2 separate regions of the Homo sapiens genome follow, and region 1 is linked to region 2. The links come from fine-mapping of genetic effects on gene expression. A gene starts in region 2. The other region holds a variant in brackets. All regions are shown on one strand. Distances are from middle to middle. Region 1 overlaps TBL1X (transducin beta like 1 X-linked). Region 2 holds the start of TBL1X (transducin beta like 1 X-linked).

The links.
Region 1: its variant is fine-mapped to the expression of TBL1X in whole blood (TOPMed, PIP above 0.99).

What each region holds. Positions count from the first base shown.
Region 1 is chrX:9,716,515-9,719,416 of GRCh38, forward strand. TBL1X (transducin beta like 1 X-linked) reads left to right here. Exons shown (of 18, transcript NM_005647.4): 18 at 1-2,902. Among named protein-coding and RNA genes, the nearest start is that of GPR143, 48 kb to the right of the region's middle. The variant C/G (reference allele first, on the strand shown) is at 1,572.
Region 2 is chrX:9,463,427-9,466,328 of GRCh38, forward strand. TBL1X (transducin beta like 1 X-linked) reads left to right here and starts at 1,632. Exons shown (of 18, transcript NM_005647.4): 1 at 1,632-2,021. RefSeq lists enhancers at 232-1,060, 888-1,087 and silencers at 1,318-1,897, 2,018-2,157, 2,458-2,607.

The DNA of each region.
Region 1 (2,902 bases), 250 kb after region 2:
CAGCTCGAGGCGTGTGGATTGGTTTCCACCCGGAACAGGCTCTGTGATGGCTGAATGGAAAGAAACGTAAAAAGCTGTGCCAAAAAAAAAGCAAAATGCTGTGATAAACCAAACAGGGAAGGGGGAAAAACCCTCCTCCTTGGGATTTTTTTTTTTTGTTTTCCCTAACAATTTGGACACTACAATTGCTCTCACAAAGGAGGTTCAAAGACCAGTTTGTACCGATGAAACGCGCAACTTTGTAATCCCAACACTTTCTATTTTCTAGAATCTTCTTTGTTCATTGGGTGGTTTTTCAGTCGGCTGGAATTCTATCTTCTGGGGGCCTTCCGTCTGAGATGGAAGCTGTCTTGGGCTTGTTGTCTCTTCCTTCTGTTGCTCCCTGCCCCTCCCCCTGCCTTTCCACTCTGTCTGGTGAGCTCTGCTTTTTCAGTGCACCATCAAGAGATGCAGCCCCGTGGACATGAAGACACAATCTCCCACGGACAGCTTTCCCCCTTCCGCCCTCTCCCACCCTCTCCTCCCCTTGCGCTCGCGCTCGCGCTCGCTTTCTCACTGGCGTGCTCTCTTTCTCTCTCTCTCTCCCTCTGTACCTTTCTCATAGTTGCTTCAGATCTTAGGTCTCAAGGGCACTTTGGCGCGTAGTAAGTGCTTTATGTAAGAAGGCAGGGCAGGGGGGCTTTTTACAGGAGAAAAAAAAATGACTTATAAGAGAAAGAGCCTGGAGTATTTTTGGAAAAAAAAATAATATTTTTATGTTAAAACAATTTTAAAATCTTAAAATGGCCATCAGACATAGAGAGCTTTGTGTGATTCATGTTTTAAAAAGAACCGAAGAAGCCACAGGCAGGGCCTGAGGGAGCCCCTGGCTTTCCCCTCAGCCTCAGGAAAGGTGGTCAGGAAAACTCTGGCTGGACAAGGGTCAGTCTTCGGGGTCAGCAGCGAGATTGCTCTGCAGCCAGTGAGGGAGGTCCCCGCCATGCCGGCTGGAAGAAGAACCTCGCATCTTTTGGTGTGTATGCACCTTGGCAGCCAGCAGGAAAGCAGCGAAGAGCCGCGCGCCCTCTGGCCTCAAGGGAGCATTGGCAGAACCATAAGGTACTGCAGAAGCCGTCGAAACCGACTGCTCGGCTGGATTAGGCGTGTTGGCTACATCTTTCCCACAACCGTATAACGACCGATGGTCATTTCTCCAAGAGCAGGCTTGGCGAGTCCTTGCAGAGCTGACATAGAGGCGCCCGCATGTCACTTAGTCTAACGCTGACAGAAATGAATGCAGAAGGAAGATTTTCAGTCCTGAACGTGAATTATAGAGGTAGAACGTCGCTAATAATTTCTGCCATCTTTATAATTTCTTTGTCTCACAGAAGACTAGGAGAAAGATCTTTTTTAAATAATCTTTTTGCTGTTTTTAAAAAATTAAACAAGGCTTTGTGTTCCTAGAAGAGCTTCATTTCAGTGAATCTGGTGACCTCCATCTGCTTGCTGTCATAACCCGACACGGACTTATTTTTGTCATTAGCAAGGGGGAAAAGGCCAAAGGACAAGGGCCTCTTCTCCCATTGGTTTTC[C/G]TGTGGGCAGAAGGGCTGAGGAAGATGGCCCAGCCCGTGGGGGCTGCTGGGTCACCAGCAGTGGGTAGGGTGCAATCTGGTGTGTGTTCCAGCAGTGAGACGGTGTTATTGTGAAGGTGGCATTCATCTGCGGAGCCAAAACCCAGCCATCGGGGAAGGGTCAGGGCTTCTGTGGAACTTGGAACGTGCCAGGACCACCTGCAAAAGCCAGGGTGCGTTGATCATTCTCAGATCATTGATTGGCCTCCACTTGGGTATGTGAATTATTCATGTCCCAGAAGACCAAAAAGTGCTCTGGTTCTGAGATGAGTATTTTATTCGTGTTCTGTTTCCGAAACACTTAGCAAAGAAGGTCACAGTGATGTGGAGTCGCCGCACCCATCTTTGAAGATAGCCAGTGTCCCTGGATGAGGTGATGATTTCCCGTCCCAAGGACTCTGTGAAGTTTAGAGTACAGTTTGTTGGGGTCCAAAAGACACCATCTCTACCCCACCCAAATAAAAATGCACTCATCTCTGTAGAACATCTGCTGTCAAAGGCCAGCCTGTCGTTAGGGCATGGCTTATGCTTGACAAACCAGTAACAACTGTGGGATGGCGATGGTGGGATGTGTCGCAAGCAATTCACTAGACAATCTTCACATGAATGTCGGTAGCCAGGGTCTCTCCCGAGGGATGGCTTTAGTCTTGATGAATGTGAACCATGTCGGAATTGTTAGGTAGAAACCTGGGCTGGGAGGCCTCGGACCCCAGGCTCCATCCCTGGCTTCCCCAGCCTGCGGCCGCAAGCAAAACCAAGCGCGAGATGCAGCTAGCACCCTTCATATCCATCCCCGTTCTCAGCGGGACAACACCATGGACAGCCGTTTTCAGAGCCTCCAGCATTTGCACACCACTACTCACCCTCTCTGCTGCTGGCATGTTGGTAGAGTCATCCCTGTAATCAAGAAATGGCCTGTGGAATGTTATTGTTCAACGTTGTTTACAGCTCTTAAAACATGGTGAGGAATGCCTAAGTCTTAGTGACCAAACGTGACCTTGAAAGCAGACATAGCATGACAGACCTTCCTAGAGTGTTTGGTCGGGTTCACAGTGACCGAGAGTCAGGTCCAGCACACACCTGGGAAAGGGATGCTGCCCCAAGGGGGACCAAAAGGGCCGGACGTTACAGGGTGAAACCCTCTGACCCCTCGCGACACCGTAGGACTTGACTTTTGTTTAGTCTTTCTAAGAAATAGATCATGGAGCCAAGTGAAGTGCACTTTGTCAAATGTAAGGGTCTGCTTTGTTCTTGTTGCTTTTCTGTTTTTTAACCTTTTGTTCCGCCATTTA
Region 2 (2,902 bases):
CAATCTATTCTGCTGATTCACAATTATGGAGACTGTGTAAGTGTGTATTTTTTTATTGATGTCCTCTAATGATGGTGTAGCAACAGTCGTTTTGCATCATTGACGTTTTACAGCAATATTTTGCAGGGTAATTTTGAGGTCCGCCGTTTTGGTGGAGGACCGGCCTCTTAAAAACTCACCTCCGGCCGGGCACGGTGGCTCACGCCTGTAATCCCAGCACTTTGGGAGGCCGAGGCCGGCGGATTGCCTGAGGTCAGGAGTTCAGACCAGTCTGGCCAATATGGTGAAACCCCGTCTCTACTAAAAATACAAAAAAAATTAGCTGGGCGTGGTGGCATGCGCCTGTAATCCCAGCTACTCGGGAGGCTGAGGCAGGGGAATTGCTTGAACCAGGGTGGTGGAGGTTGCAATGAGCCGACAGCGCGCCACTGCACTCCAGCTTGGGCGACAGAGCGAGACTCCTCAGAAAAACAAAAACAAAAACAAAAAAACAAAAACCTCACCTTAGGTCCCCCTCCCCCTACAACCAGAACAACAAATGGTCTAGAGTTCGAGGAAGAGCAAGTGAGGTTATAGTTTAGATTGCTGAGTGTACCGGGCTCTTAGCACGAAGCTCATTATATAGTAAAGGAAGGGGCAAGAATATTTGAAAAATATTCAACGAGGCTGACCCCAGAGGTGCTGGGGAGGGGGAGTGGAGATCTGTTTAACTGAATTAAGGCTGCGAGTGGTTGGGAGTAGCCTACGTGGAGGGGAGGAAGGAGCGCTGGGGACTTAGGTACACCGGGGCCAGGCCGTGTAAGCCATTGCAACATAAAGCACTTTGCAAGGGCCAGAGGGCTGATGCCTGGGGGGTTGGGGTGGGAGTGATGAGGCCCGAGTGCCCAGGTCCCCCCAACCTCCTCAGCCCCCACACCCGAGTTCCTGGCGCCTATGCCTGTGTGTCTGAGTTTGTCCCTAAGCATTTCTGGCTCTTCTTGGGAGGTGTTTTGCAAAGGTCGAGGCTCCGCCGGAACCCCCACTTTTTGAGCTGGGGTAAAGACTACTGGGGTGTCTTCTAAGACGCCGATTTTGAGGGAGATTCACCATCGGGCAGGTGGCAGGGGGTTCTGTTGGGGCAGCCGGGTGGCTTCCTTTTTGGGGTGGGGGAGGGTAACACTTTAGCAGTGATCGAGGTTCCCCTGCCCCCTAGAAACTGAGGGGGTGGCCGAGGTTCCCGTCCCCTCGAGGCAGTCGTGGAAAGGCTGGGTTTGGGATGTGATGGGGGTAGCCCTGGGGTCCTCTCAGTCCCACGGAGGCCACGGGGAAGGGACCGGGACCAGAGCAACTAGGGAGAGGCCCGGGTTCCCCTCACCCACCCTAGGCGTGGGGGAGCGGGGCGGGCTTGGTAGGGACGCTGGTCCCCCGACCGTGGGACAGGGGCTGGGTTGGGACGCGGGTCCCCACTAGGAGCCGCGGGGGAGGGGCAGGGCCGGAGTCCCTACCCTCGTAGGGGAGGGGCTGGTTCGGGACGCGGCTCCCCCGGGGCGCAGGGGCGGGGCCGGGTGGTACGCCGGGTCCCCTCCCACGGCCGTGAGGGAGGGGCCGGCGGCGGGGGCGGACCCCTGGCGGTCCTCCTGGCTGGGGTCCGCGCGCTCGCGGCAGCTCCCCGTGGAGGTCACTGTCCGTGCCAGTCCCTCCCGCTGTCCCGCCCTCTCCCGCTGCCGCCGCCGCCGCCGCCGCGCCCGCCTCAGCGCCCCCACTCCGCGCTTGGGAGCGAGGAGCCGCCAGCGCCCCCGCCCCGCCGCCGCCGCAGCGCCCTCAGGCCGCCATTCGCCACCGAAACTTTCCAGCGCCCGCGCTCTCTCCGGGACTCGGCGGCGGCGGGGCGGGGGCGGCCCGGGGGCGGCGCGCGGCTGCTCCGGGGCGCCGGGCCCTCTTCGGCCGCCGCACGGCCGGGACTCGGAGGCTGCCGGCTGGAGGGAGGTTCGGAGCGCGGCCGGGCGCGCGGCGCCGCCACAAGTTGCGCTGCTCGCGACGAGGTGAGTGCGCAGGGCTCGGCGGGCCGGGCGCGGGGTCCGCAAACTTCTGCGGGGAGGCGGGTCCCGCGCTGACCCTCCAGGGTCCGGCCGGCGGCTCGGGGCGCCCGAACGCTCCACCCGCCCCTGGAACTCCTGTAGGTGCAGGTCGCCAACTGTCCCCGCGGCGCTCGGACTGGGGTGCGGCGCGCTCCCAGGAGCCTGAACAATACCCCGAGGTGGCCGCTCCCCGAAGTGCCGGCGCGCCTTGCGGGGAGAGACGGAGGTCGGCGGGGGGCTCCTTTGTTTTGGGGAGGGGGAAGTGGCCGGTAAGTTTAGGGAAGCGCTCGGCTTTTCCTCCGGTGCCCCTTTGTCTGCCGATTCAGGGGCTTGCTGGGCAAACCTGCGCCACCGCGGGCTCCGGGGACCGGGGTGGAGGGCGGTGGCGGGATTTCCCCGCTGTTGGGGAGAAGAGCCCCATTCATACCCGGGACGCGGGCCGGCCCTCCCGGACCCGGGTGGAAGCGCAGCCTCGCGGAGTGGGGCAAGCGGCGGGCGAGGTGGCGCGGGCCCCGTGTCTGCTCAGTTTCTGACGCGCAGAAACTGTCAAGGAAGTCGGGAGCCCCAGTCCTCCGCCCATCTCCCCGGCCTGAGCGCACGGCTGGGCTGGGGGCACCCTTGGCCCGTCGAGGGTCTGCAGAGCGCCGCCCGGGGAGAGCGCAGACCTGTTGCTGCTCCTGGGCTCTGACGGGGCGGGTGGGGTGGGTCTCGCAGATCCTGGGCCCCGGCCTTGCTATCCAGGGGGACCTTCCCTAACGATGGGACCGGTGCTCGGAGTGGAGTATGGGGAGTGCGCCTTCGGGAGTCGGCGCTGGCCGGATATGTGACAACTGTGGGTCGCTGGA